Linked DNA regions of Homo sapiens: region 1 is linked to region 2. The links come from fine-mapping of genetic effects on gene expression. Tissue or cell type: prefrontal cortex. Region 2 holds a variant in brackets; the other region holds the start of a gene. All regions are shown on one strand. Distances are from middle to middle.

Region 1 (8,190 bases), 190 kb before region 2:
CCAACAGGATGCTTTGAAGTTTAGTCTAAACATTTACACAAGCAAATGTGTAAAAACAGCTTCATATTTTTGAGTAATAAAATTCAAGCATGATAAATTGTTCTACAAGTTACCAGAATTTATTATGACAGTACAATAATGAAGACAACATGGTACTAGCATAAGAGTAGATAAAAACATCCATAGAGCTGAATGAAGAGCCTGGAAATAGTACAGGTACATAGAATAGTGGGGAAAGTATTGACTGACTAATGGTGTGGCAAGAACTGTGATCCATAAAGGCAAGGTAAAAAGTCAAATAATTACTACATACCATATGGAAAACTAAATTCCAGATAATTGAAACAACAGAAATCTTTTAAATGCTCCAAAAAAAAAAAATCAGAAGATTATTCTTACGGAATTCTGGCAAGGGAAATGTTCATAAGCAAGATCCAAAAGCAGAGGTAACAAAGGATAACAGCACACACAAAGTTACAATTGCAGTATGACAACATATAGATAACTAGTGAATATGAAATGAGAAAATACTTGTCACATATATCAGAATATATATACTGTACATAGAATTATATATTTATAATACAAATGGCCTATAAACCAATAATGACAATGAAATAAAATAATGTGCAGCTCATATTAAAAAATAAATTTCAGATTAAGAAGCAAAAAAACATTAATAAATGTACTGAAAGATGTTCAGTGTCATTAGTGAGATGCAAATTAAAACAAGATACCATTTTTTCATTAACTAATTGGCTAAAAATTATGAAAGATTAATAATAGCCAGTGTTAGCAAGAGTGTGGAGGGGAAGGCAATCTGAAAGGGGAATTCGGCAGTAATTATCAAAGGGTAAATTTTACATCATCTTCATAGCATAATTCCGCTGCTAGGAATCTATGTAACAAAAAATGTGCAAAATGTATAAATATTTATACCATGATGTTTATTGTTGCATTAAATTTATTAGTTAAAAATGGAAGACTGCGTTTACACACACAACAATAGAGGAGTAATTAAATAAGTTATGATGGTGTGCTGGTTCTTGGTTGACTTTTTCCATAGATTGATTCTTCCCTCCCTTTCTCCTTCAGCACTGTGTGTAGTAAGAGGTTACCTTCAGCAGGCTTCTTTTTCTAGCTTTTTCTGTCAACTGGCTTTTGACTCATTTAGCTTGTATTAGTCTATTCTCACACTGCTGTAAAGAACAATCTGAGATTGAGTAATCTGTAAAGAAAAGAGTTTTAGTTGCCTCATAGTTCTGCAGGCTGTACAGGAATAATTGCTAGGGAGGCCTCAAGTAACTTTCAATCACTGCAGAAGGGGAAACAGGTGTGCCTTACATGACCAGAGCAGGAGGACGAGACAGAAGAGGGAGGTGCTACACACTTTTAAACAACCAATCTCTTGAGAACTCACTCACTATCAGGAGAACAGCAAGAGGGCAATCTACCCCCATGATCCAATCATCTCCCACGAGGCCCCTCCTCCAACACTGGGGATTTCAATTTGACATGAGATTTGGGCCAGGACGCAAATCCAACCATGTCATAGCCTAATGGGAAGTACTGTTGGGAGACTGGTGGGCAGGAAGAAGGGAGAAGCCATAGTACTTCCCTTTCTTCCCTCTCTGCCATGGGTATTATTTCTGGCTTTGATTGGCTTTGCTCCATGGGAAATACTCTTGCTAGACAAGCCAATGGTGGTTCTAACTTTTCCTAGATGACCATAGCCCCTGGGCCCTACTAATACAACCTTCTCCATTTGTCCCTACAATTTAACAATGGTAGTGGCTTCCTATTGGTACTAATCTCTAGATTACCTCTTTGTTCCTGCTTGGTTTTTTACTTCTCCCATCATCTATGTAACAACTTTTTTCTTGTATAAAATTGCTTCTGCTTTAAAAAGTTAGAAATAATTTTGTTTTGCTCATTGAAATGCACACACACACTTTTGCAGCCAGTAAAAACAACGAAGAAAAGGCTGTACCTGTATAATCATATACTAAAAAAGAAATGTTCCTGGTAAGTTATTGACTCCAAGAAGGAACTTGCTGTATCTTATGTTTGATAAGGTCCATTGCAAAATCGAACCATTATGTGTATATAGAAACGTATTTGTATAGTAATAATGATAATAACTATCCCTTTTAGGAAAAAACAGATATGGCAAAAAAAAAAAAAAAAAAAAACCCCACCAAGAGGATATGTTATCCCTATGAAGTGAAGTGCAAGGTGTGCATATATTGAGAAGAAAGGATGCTGCCACTTTTGACTTTATATACAGCTATATTGTTTGTATTTTTTTCTCTTGTATCACATTGTTAATTTCCAAAATTGTTTTGAAAGCAGGTAATAAAACAGTATGCCTACTATGATCATTTTTATTAAATTTTTTTTTGTTTTTGTGACAGAGTCTTGCTCTGTCCCCCAGCCTGGAGTGCAATGGCAAAATCTCCACTCTCTGCAACCTCCACCTCTTGGGTTCAAGCAATTCTCCTGCCTCAGCCTCCCGAATAGCTGGGACTACAGGTGCCCATCACCACACCCAGCTAATTTTTGTATTTTTAGTAGACACGGGGTTTTGCCATGTTGGCCAGGCTGATCTCAAACACCTGACCTCAGGTGATCAGCCCGTCTCGGCCTCCCAAAGTACTGGCTGGGATTACAGGTGTGAGCCACCACGCCCAGACACCTTTATTAAAAATTAATGTCCATATGTACTTATTGGTAATGGGAATGGTCTGAAAGGACAGTCAATTCTGCTATAACATGTGCTTTGAGATTAAATTTGTTCCAATGTGATTAATATACCAGAAAATAATTTGAGCATACTGCCTATGCTCATGTGTGATTTTATTTTCAGTGAAAAAGAGTAGTTGAACTTTAAAAAACTGAACTGAAAAACAGAAAGGCTTAGGATGCACAAAATACACCCACCACTTATAGTAACACCCTCACTTCACCTGTGTGTTGTGAGCCTTGACACCCATATGTCATATTGCAACTTTCTGTCTGATTTCAGATAACCCACATTTCAACAAGCTAAAGTAACTTGCAGTTTGCAAATCTTCCAATGCCTAATTTCCAAAACAAGTTTCAGGTCTTTTTCAAGGTAAAGCATCATATTTATTTTAGTATTTATGTATATCTTAACCATGTAACGTGTGAAAGTGTGCTACCATTTTTATTAGGCTCTCATCCTTTTTTTCTTGTTCCTTGTGGGTCATTATGAAGTTTTTGAGTATTTTACCCTAATCACATTTTTTCTCACAAGTCCCGTGGTTTTTATTGCACAATTTTGTACAGTATAGTGATTTTTAGGAATGGATATATCACATTATAGCAAAACTGACCATACATGTACCAAAATGTTAATAGCGTTTTGGGCAGCTTATTATTGCTTATCTATAGTTTCTATATTTTTCTAAAACAATCGTGCATTGATACTTTAATTAGATCTATGTAAACATCTTTAAATGATGAAATGGCAGCTAAAGGATGATTACAGCTGTTTTGGGTAAAGAGCTGAGGCTATTCTGGCAAGCTCCACATATTCACTGGTAATGTAATAAATTAAGTGCCTTCTAATCTACTTAAAAGGTACAATCACTTAAGCTCTTTCTGTAAAACAGAAACAGGTCTCACAGCAACATCTTGGCACCTTCTTTAATCAGAAAGTTCCCATAAGTACTAAGAAGAATAGAGAAGATGTGACTAGCCAATTTTCCATTAAATAATGTAGATTATGTAATAAGCCAAATGCCCCTAAACTGGTTGCAAACATTCAGAAGTGGTAATAACATGATTCAGATACAGAAATATAGATAGGCAATAAGGAGCCAGATATTCAGTGCTTACTGACTTTCAAGCTATTATTAAGTAGCTCGCCTATACACAGTCTCTGTAGGAAATAAAGAAACTACAAGCTTGAACACATTGTAAATTTCTAAATGAGGAGAAAAAAAGGTTTTTCTATGTGACTTGATGCTTGAATTTCTATCCAGTTTTTCAGAGTGAACATATACCTGCGTTATCACTTTTTTCTTTCCGAGACACTATTATGATGTTTTTTCTCTTCTTTTTTAAGTAGTAACTTGCTCCACCTACAGTCAAACTGCACTGTATGACTTTGATTTGGGTATGAGTCCTCTTTTCCCTCCCCCACATGCCCTGTTTCTGGCCCAGCGCCCACTGAACTCTGTACTTGTTCTTGATCCTTGTATTTTCCTGTCTCTCTACACAGAATCGGCTGTTGAGTGTGCTCTCAGTGGAGCTTTGGTTTTAGCTGTTCTCTGACAAAGAGCTTGTTCTGAGCTGCACATCTCGTCCTCTTTGTTCAGCCTCAGGCTTCAAGCATTGAATCCTAAATATTCTCCAGCTGGGAATCAGACAAGGGCAGAAATGAAGAACCCAGAAGCCCAGCAGGATGTTTCAGTTTCCCAGGGATTTCGCATGTTGTTTTACACGATGAAACCCAGTGAAACTTCATTCCAAACATTAGAAGAGGTGCCTGATTATGTAAAAAAGGTGAGACTTTATTGGAAGAGGCTACTCTTATTCTTGCTGCTTTCTTAATAAATGGTAAGGTCAATCTCCTTAGGGTTTTGTTCACTTTCATTATTCAAATGATTACATTCTAATAATAATAATTCAGTTTCTTAAAGGCGTGAAGCAAAAGTAGAATTTCCACTTGAATTTTCTTACAATCCATAGCCATCTTCACCTGTAAATTCCCTCTTTTATATGTCACTCCAGAATATGACAAAAACAAAAGTTTAAAGTTTTCCTGGACTCCATGGCATTGTAAATGTAGCTATTGGAAGCTCAATGACAAATAGTTACACCACATCAGTAAACTTTGTAACAATTTCATTTTTAAATCTTTCACTTGTCCACCCCTTCCAGGGAAACTATTTCCTCTTTCATTTGGTAGAGTAGTTCAGCAGAATGAAGGATATGCAGCTTGACCAGGTCCAGCTCTGACTTCCTAAGTTTGAATTTGACCCAAGTTTTCTTTGAAACTCTGAAGTGCTCAGAGGCACATTTCACTTCTGGTTCCTGGCTATGATTGGAAGTGGAAATATCCAGAATTAGAACTTGAATACTGAAGTTCCCCACCCTATCAAAGTTATTCCTACAACACTCACTAGTTCATGGCAGAAATAGAAAAAAAATGACATCATAGAATATGTTATTGAGAGTTCAGTTTAGAAAGCTTCAAAACTCATGATTAGCTTCCAAATGAGTAAAATCCGTATCTTTTTCAAGATTAGATATTACACTTTCTTTCTGAGTTTTTAAGTTAAAAAAAGTGGCACTGATATCTTCATAAATTATTATTGTTTATACTGCAATATCAAACCAAATTCAATGCTCCATCACCAATAGTGGAGCTTTCAAAACATCTCTTATTATGTGAAACAAAAATCAAAACCAAATGAATAAAATCTGAATCATGTTTTAAGCAAACATGTAAAATTACCATATTCTCTAAAATTCTAAGCAGAAAATTGTCTCTACTCTTTGAATTTCATCATTAGAAATAGTTCTGGTAAGTCTAATATGAAAAATTAGAATTATGTGCATCTTTAAGGAAAGCCTCTTGAAGTGGGTCTAAATTATACATGTAGAGACAATAGACCTCTAATTATCTACCTTATTCTAAATGTATTTTTTAAACTAATTTGGAAGATGTTCCTCTTAATCTTATAATATTATAATTATCGTGGTTATATCTATGATTACATTTCATATTCAAATTGGATGATAGAATTTGAGCACATGTTTAGTGTATGTCTAAAATAATTAGACTTCTTTACCACTGTGTAGGAAGTAATCCTCTAAAATGAGTGTCTACCATCTCCTGCAGGGCTTCCCAAATCTGGGCCTTTCAATTCTGAAATGACTAATCAGGAAATGTAAAATAATTTCATATGGAACATAATAGCATCTCTTTTCTGCAACTTCCTTTCCAGGCAACTCCATTTTTCATTTCTTTGATGCTGCTTGAACTTGTTGTCAGCTGGATTCTCAAAGGAAAGCCACCAGGTCGCCTGGATGATGCTTTAACGTCAATCTCAGCTGGTGTTCTGTCTCGACTTCCAAGGTGAGTTAGATGGTCAACAACGCTGAGCATAAAAACTGAAATTGCCTAAGTATGAGGGGCAAAGGAACCCAATGCATGGGAGAATTAGTTTATTTACACAAATTTTCCCAAAAAATTCAGTTCATGTCATTATTTAAAATTTTGATATTTTGTTCTTCATTGATTTTTTGCACTTATTTAAAAAATCACCGCAAACATTATTTATCTTGACTCTGTTGATATCCCTTTGAAATGAGTGCTTCATTTGCCTTATTGAGGTTCCAACTCTGAGTTATGGTCTGGTTCTCTATTAAAATTGTGTTTTGTCTCTTCCAGCTTCAGAAAGAATAGCTGTCTCGGGTGTAGCCATTCCCTAGAGCAGGTCACACAAATCTCTGAATAACTACAATAGTTTGCTAATTGGTGTCTGGCTCTAGTACAACCCCGTTTGCAGCCAAGCATTTCCATAATATGAATCCAGTGGAAACCCTTCACTGGCTCTCTATTGCCTCAAGTGTAAGGTAAAAATCCCTGTCTTGAACTATAGAGAACATTGTTTCTCTGGCTTTGCTTTTGGATCGTCCACTCTCCTGTCTATTTGTCATGTTTATCCTGTCATGCTTTACTACTTGCCATTGTCCACATGCCACAGGCACTTCCCTCTGCCTGGAAAGCCATCCAGGCCAATTCAGATTCATTCATTAGGTCTAAGCATAGACATCACACTCTTCAGCAAGCTTTATCTGTTTTCCAACCTTATGTTAGGCATTCCTGCATTCCTACACTACAGTCCCATGGAATTGTGTGCTTATCCCAGATCTAGAATTATCACATGACATGATGCTTACCTGTTTTTCTCTCAGCCCTTCCTGCTAGCTTGCACACAACTTGAGAGCAAGAGGTGTATGTTCTTAATAGTTTTAGCTCCTGTGCCTGGAATGATGTCTGTTGCATGTAGTTTCCCCAAAAGCAGTAATATTCCTGTAACATTATGTTGATGATAAAATTAGATGATATTGGGACTCAATAATAGTAAGATATAAATGACCTACTATTTTTTAGAAAGAGTACATTATAATGTGTGAAGAGGAAAGACCAATAAATGGAAGTCATCTTCAACACGTGAGGGCTTACCAAAGAGGCAGAGGGTGAGGAAAGATTCCCTTAGAAGTCTGTGCTTTGAGCTGCTGATGAATGTTCTCATTCCAGCTTCCCACCCATTTCTTCTTGTCCTGTTTTAAGAGCTTTACTTCTGACTGGTGCTCATTGCTTTGGAATGTTTCTATTAACCGCCCAGTGGGAAGCTAAGGTGGATTTTTAAAAAATAACATTAAAACTTTAAATATCTAAAAAAGGTGGAATAATTTCATATATTACATAAAATAGTTTAAATAAAAGTAAACTTAAAAGTAAAATTTTTTCAATAAGTGTTTGAGAAAAGTGCATTATTAGGTATATAGTAGAAGTAATATTAATAATATTTACTCTGAAAAACTACTTGTAATTGTTGCATTTTGCAGTTGAAATCAGAAGAAGATAATGTCTCCAGAAATTTGCAGCTAATTCCCAGATTATCATGAATAAGAATTTACAATTATAGATAATTTCCTTTATTATAATACTTGTCCCCTTTAAGCAGAAATGAACAAGAAAAACATTCAACATGCCCAAGGGTATATAGATTTAGATGTAGATTTAGTTATTTAAAAATACCCAGTTGGTTAATTTAGCTCATTCTCAGAAAGTTAAGTGTATAGGTTATGGAAATCAGATTATTGATAAACTATAAACGTCACCCAATAACTGAAAATTGCCCTGTATATACGATTATGGGTCATATATTTTACTGAATTGGAATGCATTTGTTAAGCATTTTGACAATGAATTTGACAGCAAATTGAATGAACTCTTCAGAATTTTTTTTTTTACCTTTTAAAGTTTGATTTTGTTCCAAATGAAATTAGATTGTTCTCTTATCATAACATTGTAAGTACCAGAAATACAAACTGTATCCTCAATACAATATTTTTGCTTAGCAGTGTTATTTTAAAAAGGTACAGAGTTATAACAGGAAAACAAGAATAAAAGAGATATTTTTACAA
Region 2 (8,190 bases):
TTTTTCTGCATCTATTGGGATAATCATATGCTTTCTGTCTTTAGTTCTGTTAACGTAATGAATCACATTGACTGATTTGTGTATGTTGAACCAACCTTGCACCCAGGGATAAAGCCCATTTAATCATGGTGGATAAGCTTTTTGATGTGATGCTAGATTTGGTTTGCCAGTATTTTATTGAGAATTTTTGCATTACTGTCAGTCAAGGATATTGGCCTGAAGTTTTTGGAATAGTTTCAGTAGAAATGGTACCAGCTCTTCTTTGTACCTCTGGTAGAATTCAGCTGTGAATCTGTCTGGTGCTGGGCTTTTGTTGATTGGTAGGTTATTTGTTACTGCCTCAATTTTAGAGCTCACTATTGTTCTCTTTAGGGTTTTAATATCTTCCTGGTTCAGTCTTAGGAGGGTGTATGTATCCAGGAAATTCGTCTAGATTTTCTAGTGTATGTGCATGTAAGTGTTCATAATATTTTCTGATTGTTGTTTGTACTTCTGTGGGGTCATTGATAATAACCTCCTTGTTTTTGATACTGTTTATTTGAATCTTCTGTTTCTTCTTTATCAATCTAATTAACAGTTTTTCTACTTGATTAATGTTTTCCCCAAAACAGCTCCTGGATTTGTTGATCTTTCCAATGGTTTTTCATGTCTCAATCTCCTTTGCTTCAGCTGTGATTTTGGTTATTGTCTTGTGATAGCTTTGGGATTTCTTTGCTCTTGATTTCTCTAGTTATTTAGTCGTGATACTAGGTTGTGAACTTGAGATGTTTCTGACTTCTTGATGTGGACTTCTAGTGCTATAAATTTCTCTCTTAACACTGCCTTAGCTGTGTCCTAGAGATTCTGGTATGTTGTGTGTTGTGTCTTTGTTCTCATTAGTTTCAAAGAACTTCTTTGAAACTTTTGCCTTAATTTCATCATTTACCGAAAAGTGATTCAGGAGCAGGTTATTCAGTTTCCATGTAATTGTATGGTTTTGAGTGAATTTCTTAGTCTTAATTTCTAATTGTGCTGTGGTCTGAAAGAATGTGGGTTATGATTTCAGTTCTTTTGCATTTGCTGAGTAGTGTTTTACTTTCATTTTTGTGATTGATTTTAGATTATGTGTCATGTAGCGATGAGAAGAATGTAAATTCTGTTGGATTTTAATGTCTTTGTATGCTTTTAGACATCACTGAGATTAGAAAGGCACTATAGAATTTTGCCACCCAGAACTCTGGGTGGAGAGTTCTGACTGTATCTATCAGGTCCATTTGGTCTAGTGCTGAGTTCAGGTGCTGCATATCTTTGTTAATTCTCTGTCTGGATGATCTAATATTGTCAGTGGGGTAGTAAAGTCTCCCACTATTATTGTGTGGGAGTCTAAATCTCTTTGAAGATCTCTAAGAACTTGCTTAATAAATCTGGGTGCTCCTGTGTTGGGTGCATACATATTTAGGATAGTTAGGAATCCTTGTTGATTTGATCCCATAAAGGGACGGAGAAAACACTACCAAGCAATTGGAAAACAGAAGGATGGGATGCAATCCCAAGTTTCTGACAAAACAGACATTAAACCAACAAAAACCATTTTAATTTTAACATTATTTTAAAACTTTAATGATTGGTGTTGTCCATATATATTTATTTTGTGCGTGTGTTCAAAGTTAGTAACCAAATTATTCTTCATATAGGAACCCAAATTTTAAACAATAGATAAGTTTGTATGTGCTGTCTGTCCAAATATAATTTTTTAAAATAAAAAGCCACAGGGAAACATGAAATCGACTTGTATTACTGTAGCAGAAAACAATGAGTTAGATTCTTGTTTCCATTTTGTGAAGCAAATGCAGGAACTAGGATACTATGGGGCCAGAAGTTTTTTGAAAATGTAATGATTGGACATATAGTTACTGTTTGTTTTTCTTACCTGTGCTAGAGCTAATGATGAAACAAATTGCATAGTGTACCAGGTTTATTTGGCTTTAGCCCCCAAAATGACAAAATTTGAAACCAAGAATTTCTTTTTGGACCAAAGCTTTTATAACTGTGGCATGAACCACATTACGCTTGGCAGTGCACACCTAAACATCAAACCACCAAAATGCTTAGACTTCATATTTGTTTAAGTAAGGTCTCATAACCCCTCACTTAACTACTTTGTTTAATATATTAACTTAATATGTTCTCCCCAAGTAGAACTAAAATCTACATCATTAATAGAGCTTAAATAGTTGAATGAGACCAAAAGAAAAGCCAGGGTCATCTGTGTCTAAATATCCAACTGTTGATATACTAACCAATGTTGAGTACAGTTCGCATTGTTGATTTTTCTTAGTTGTATTAAATAAAATCTCTAAATAAATTATACTGATTCATAGAAACAAAAGATGGAGACTTACTCATTTTAAGCTATGTGAGCCTCCATGTTAAATTTGAAATAGTGGCCATTAACATTTGAATGCCTGGGCATGAGTGAGTGCTTCCTGGGTAAAAATGTAGCCAGACACTGTGTACATTAAAATATGTGACTTACAGCATGGTTTTCTCAAGATTTCTCTACTGTCATGAAAAAATATATGAGAAACTCATGTAGATATATTGACGAAGAGAAATATCAAGTGTTGAAACCCTTTACAAACTGAAAGTAGAGTTGGAGACAGCTTCATTCCTGACACAAATTAATTTTGAAAGTTGTATTTGCTTGTTTCCCACATGTGTTTTTCTTTGCTGAGAACATGCTGTGTGACTAGGAAGAAAGGTTGTTTATTTGCAAAATTCTATAGTGCCTTTCTAATCTCAGGGATGTCTAAAAGCATACAAAGACATTAAAATCCAACAGCAATATTTTTTTCCAGATTCACTGTAGCCAATAATCACACAGAAAAGTTGTGGCTGACTTGTAATTGGGGACCCTGCTGTGGTCCCACAGTCTTTTCTGTTTATGCATATATTAGAGAAGATAAATACTTACTTGTTTTATGTATGCAAGTTCTATATAAATAACTTTGGGAGTCAAGAGAGCAATTTGATGGCCACGACAAAGGTGTAAGAGACACATTCCTTTCTTACTGAAACTTGCAAAGCATATATTTAAATATATAGTGTTTAGTTTAGTGATATGACCCACGGACTTTTATGTTGATTTTGGTTTAGTAATCCTTGAAAAATCAATTCCTCAGCTGCCAGTGTCCACTTCCTGGGGTGATATCATGAGTACATGTTGGAAATAAAAATATGTATAATATGTATTGCACTAGCATGTTCTACAAACTAAAATTGAAAAGGCAATGCTTCTTTTAACTAATAAACACACAAAAAACAGTTTGAATATTCAATAAGGTCTTATAATAGGATATGTAATAAAGTTACTGCAGATACATTTGAACACAGATTACTTTGATGATATATTTCAAGTTACAGGGCATCTGAGAGTATCCAATATAAATTTGGAAACATTTTTATGGTTTTTAATTCCCCTGAATGCCATACTCTGTAAAACATTATGGGCACTACAATTTTGTAACTAATATTTTCATGTTGGCGTTTTTTAATAAAGCTGCTGAAAAAAACCTGTAAAAAAATCAATATATTTTGGTCGACTCTTACAGCAGAGAGTGCCACCTGCACAAATTAGATCTAGCTTAGGTTCTTCATGAAAGTTTTCAAGTCAATGTCCAGGGTATACTGTTTTTCTCTAGTCTATCCCCTTGGGATTTCATTTCCTTAAGATTTTCGGTGGTAACTAAGTTACGTAATGTGGGGGAAAAAAAAGGAATGTGGGCCAAAATGAGCATCAATTATAATACAAAGGCATGAAATGAATGTAATGGATTTGTAGTAACGGAAGACTATTAACAAAAGCTACCTTTCAAGTAAGCATAGACTACAGAAATGTAGAAAAGTGATCATTGTATTTTCCTAAATACATTATTTTTTGTCCACTACATTTAAATACATTGATAAACTGGGAAATTACACATTTAATAGTATATGCATCAAATAATAGAATGTTAACTTTGAAATTAAATATATCTTCATATCACTATAAGTGTTTTCTAATTTGGTGAGGATCAGGCAGCTTCTTTAAAAAGTTACATAACAAACACAATGATAACCTCCTCATAATTTAAATCATAACCTCACTTAGATTTGTTAAGTGTATGTAAAAATTAAGCAATTTAATTCTGTTTTGGAAACTCCCAAGTCTAAATGCGCAGTTCTTTGGAGTTACATTTCCTCATTAAAAGTATTCCACGTGAAGAGGCTGGGCACAGTGGCTTACGCCTGTAATCCAGCACTTTAGGAGGCCGAGGTGGGTGGATCACTTGAGGTCAGGAGTTTGAGACCTGTCTGGCCAAGGTGGAGAACCTCCGCCTCTGCTAAAAATACAAAAATTAGCTGGGTGCGGTGGCAGGTGTCTGTAATCCCAGCTACTCTGGAGGCTGAGGCAAGAGAATCACTTGAACCCAGGAGTTAGAGGTTGTGCAGAAGCCAAGATTGTGCTACTGCACTCCAGCCTAGGCAACAGAGCAAGACTCTGTCTCAAAAAAAAAAAAAAAAAAAAAAAAAAATCCTTTTAGAAAGAAAGTCTGATCTGTCTCTGAAACAGTCTTTTAACATCTTTTCTCTTCTGTATTTTGGAAAATAATGAAAAGGTATTTAGTTTGTAGATCCACTTGTTTCTTAGTAAGAAAATAAAAGTTTCCTATTAAAAGTGCAAGGAAATTTGATCTTGAGGCAAATACAGATTATTCAGAGTGGCTCCCACAAAATAGTTTTATGGAGCATTCAAAAAAGATAATATGTTAACAACAGACTCTTTTGGCAACTGTTGTAGGATCTTTCTTTTCTAGAGGTTTTCAGTCTTGGACCAATTACTACCCAATACTGAGGCACAACCCTTTGGTGTTCTCTACTTAGTGAATGTCCAGTGAATCATGAGATTTTCCAGTCTGTCTGGTAGGAGTATGCATTACACACATACTGGGCATTGTAACTCTGATCCTTTTTTGCCCTTGGATAATTTCTTCAGGGTATCACGCATGAGCTGACTTGCTAAAGACTTGACCGACACTCTGCAAATTTTTAGGGTTCTCTATGCATAACTCTTCCTTTTTTGGTACTCTATTTTCCAAATGCTAGCCTTCTTGGTTTCTCTCAAATCCTGGCTCTTT[C/A]TCCACAATTCAGGGAATCCACCAAGCTCCTCTGGGTCCCTCTGTATTGTAACCTAGAAACTCTCAAGGTGGGAAACTGGTGCAATATGGATCATGTCATTTGTATCCTATTTCCCTGAGATCGCTGTTCTTTTTTGCCTTGTGCCCTGTGATTTGAAAACAATCATTTCAGATATATTGCTATTGTTTGTTTTTCCAGGTAGGAGGGTGAAGTTCTCTATCTTATCAGGTACACATTCATATTTTAATGGAGTAGAACCATAGTGTCAAATATAATTGTTACATATCTAATATTTTGGTATTTATAAAATACAATGTAATCTTTGGCTTTTATTTCTTACAATTTTTTGTAGAAACTGATGAACTCCATGTCAATTCAATGTTTTGAACTATATGTTAATTATACTTTTTTAGCCAATATATTTTCACCTTTGATATATTTATTATGTTTGCTTCTTGCTTGAAATTCTAGCAAATGTTTACTGTAATTATATTCCTCTTAGTATGCTTTAGTGGTAGCCACCTAGGGAGTTCTGAAAAAGTAGGGAAAAGAATAAGATAGCCAATATTGACAATTATTTTAAAGAGCAAGAAATTCTTTCAAGACAGATTCTTGAGACTCACATATAATTATACATTGCAGTATGGTGTCACATTGGATTCTGCTCTTGTGTTTATGTTGTAACACTGAGAAGCATCTTCAAGCCTTCGGATTCAGCATAACAAATCCGCAAGCTCACAGTGTCTGGAAGATTGGGGCCCTCAGAGCTGCAGAGATATTAATAATGGCAGCAGGGATAAGTATGCCAAGAAAGCCAATCTGCTGCCTTCACAGCAGAGATTGTAGAGGTTTCAGTGTTAGGCAATATTAGCCTCATTTTACAGATGTCTGAGAAGATGAGCATTAATCAAAATAATAACTTTTGTAGACCTTGTCAGGCACCTTTTAGAGAAACTACTAAAAACGTACCAACTTGTTTTAATAAGAAAATCTAGAGATTTTCATTTCTAAAGCCTTAGAATAAAATTATGGAAAATATTATCAAATCATCTTTGACAATGCATAAAGTTTAAAAAAAGAATTTTTTCATATGGAAACATACTGTTATTTTAGGATGTAGTGACTGAGTTTGATACCTCCTTTGTGAGGTTTGTTTGGTGGAGAAATGTGAGAGGAGGTTGTATTGACCCCTAAGGTTTTCCCATGCAAGAGTAAGACAGTGATAGTCCTCTTCAAGAAGAAAAGGGCTTTCTTCTTTATAATATCTGTGGGCAAAAGAAGAATTCCCACACATTCATTGATTAAGTAACATGGCGTCAAACATGTAATTCTGCTGTTTTTGTGTTGTTAATGATACCTTTTCCTAAGTATTTTTTTCCCATCTATTTAAAGAAAGTTGGAGTAGATAGGGTTCTGCAGGCGTAATTGGGGCTGCAAATGTAAACCATCATCCTTGCACTGGGAAACCTATGAAAACGAGCTACCAAATAATTTTTTTTTTTTTTGAGACAGAATATCACTCTGTTGTCCAGGCTGGAGTGCTGTGGTGCCATCTCAGCTCACTGAAACCACCTCCTCCCAGTTTCAATCAGTTCTTGTGCCTTAACCTCCCAAGTAGCTGGAATTAAAGGCAAGTACCGCCACCATGCCCAGATAATTTTTGTATTATTTTTGTGTTTTTAGTAGAGATGGGGTTTTGCCATGTTGGCCAGGCTGGTCTCGAACTCCTGGCCTCAAGTGAATTGCCGACCTCAGCTTCCCAAAGTGCTGGGATTATAGGCATGAGCCACCACACAGTAGTGAAACTTGACAGATAATTTTTAAAAAGGAAAAATAATTTATTGCCTCATAAAGCTATTTATGGTTATGATCTTTCCCAAATGCTTTCTGTGATTAAGAACCGATCATACGTCCAAATTAAAATGGAACTAATTTAGAATAATTTCAATTTAGCACTTTAGGACAGAGATACTTTATATGAAAGATAAACCAGCAGTATATAATTTGAAATGGGAGTAAATTAAATGAAAAAATAAAATCCTCCCTGTTATAAAAAACTAATAAGCTACGTGTGATTTCACATATTGTTTAAAACACAGGAGACTAAATATTTATAGTCTTCAAAACCTATAAATTCTATTTTTTTTTCTTTTGCTCTAGTGTAGTTGGCCAGTGGTCTTACGGGCAAATACTAAGGTGGTATGAATTCAAGGGCAGGGATTTTGTTGTTCTTGGTTACTCAAACTCATATTTACCATAGTGCCCAGCACATATTCAATATATATTCATGGAATGAATTTGTAGAATTTATTTATTTATTTATTTTTGAGACAGAGTCTCGCTGTGACGCACAGGCTGGAGTGCAATGGCATGATCTTGCCTCACTGCAACCTCTGCTTCCCAGGTTCAAACAGTAGTTTACTCCTGCCTCAGCTGCCCAAGTAGCTGGGACTACAGGTGTGTGCCACCATGCCTGGCTAATTTTTGTATTTTTAGTAGAGACGGGATTTCACCGTGTTGGCCAGACTGGTCCTGAACTCCTGACCTCAAGTGATCCGCTCACCTCAGCGTCGTAAAGTGCTGGGATTACACGCATGAGCCACCACACCCAGCCGCATGTTAGACTTTAGAGACGTTCAACTGATTATCTCCCTTAGTAGTCTATCAAAGGATACTATATAGAAAAACTTAAGTTCCATAGGAAAATGAACCCTAAATTAAGCATATGTGTTCTATGTTGAATTCCCTCTTCAATATTCTCAGTTTCTTTTAAACTCATTTTTGGGATATTCTGTTTTTTAAGGAATTAAAGGGATAAATATTAAGGTACTTAATATTTAAATATTTAATATTTAGAAACACTTAATAATTTAATATTAAACTATTGATTGAATAATTTAGTTGAATTTATTTTAAAGTTTGAGGAATATAAAATATTGGTATTAGATGAGGTGTGGTGGCTCATGCCTATAAATCCCAGTACATTGGGAGGCTGAGGCCAGACTTGAGTCCAGGAGTTTGAGACCAGCCTGG

Alleles and levels. Positions count from the first base shown, and alleles are read on the strand shown. Sizes are in standard deviations (SD) of each study's normalised expression.
As copies of A replace C in region 2, the expression in prefrontal cortex of the gene that starts at base 4,235 in region 1 goes down (small effect, 0.32 SD a copy in CommonMind).

Evidence for each region. PIP is the estimated chance that this variant, and not a neighbour inherited with it, causes the effect.
Region 1: AGMO starts here. The variant in region 2 is fine-mapped to the expression of AGMO in prefrontal cortex (CommonMind, PIP 0.95).

Annotation. Positions count from the first base shown.
Region 1 is chr7:15,558,060-15,566,249 of GRCh38, reverse strand. AGMO (alkylglycerol monooxygenase) reads left to right here and starts at 4,235. Exons shown (of 13, transcript NM_001004320.2): 1 at 4,235-4,530; 2 at 5,979-6,109. The coding sequence starts at 4,405. LOC124901591 (a long non-coding RNA gene) reads right to left here and starts at 7,393. Exons shown (of 3, transcript XR_007060217.1): 1 at 7,223-7,393; 2 at 6,937-7,069; 3 at 6,050-6,154.
Region 2 is chr7:15,371,750-15,379,939 of GRCh38, reverse strand. All of the region lies in intron 10 of AGMO (alkylglycerol monooxygenase), which reads left to right. Among named protein-coding and RNA genes, the nearest start is that of AGMO, 190 kb to the left of the region's middle. The variant C/A (reference allele first, on the strand shown) is at 5,157.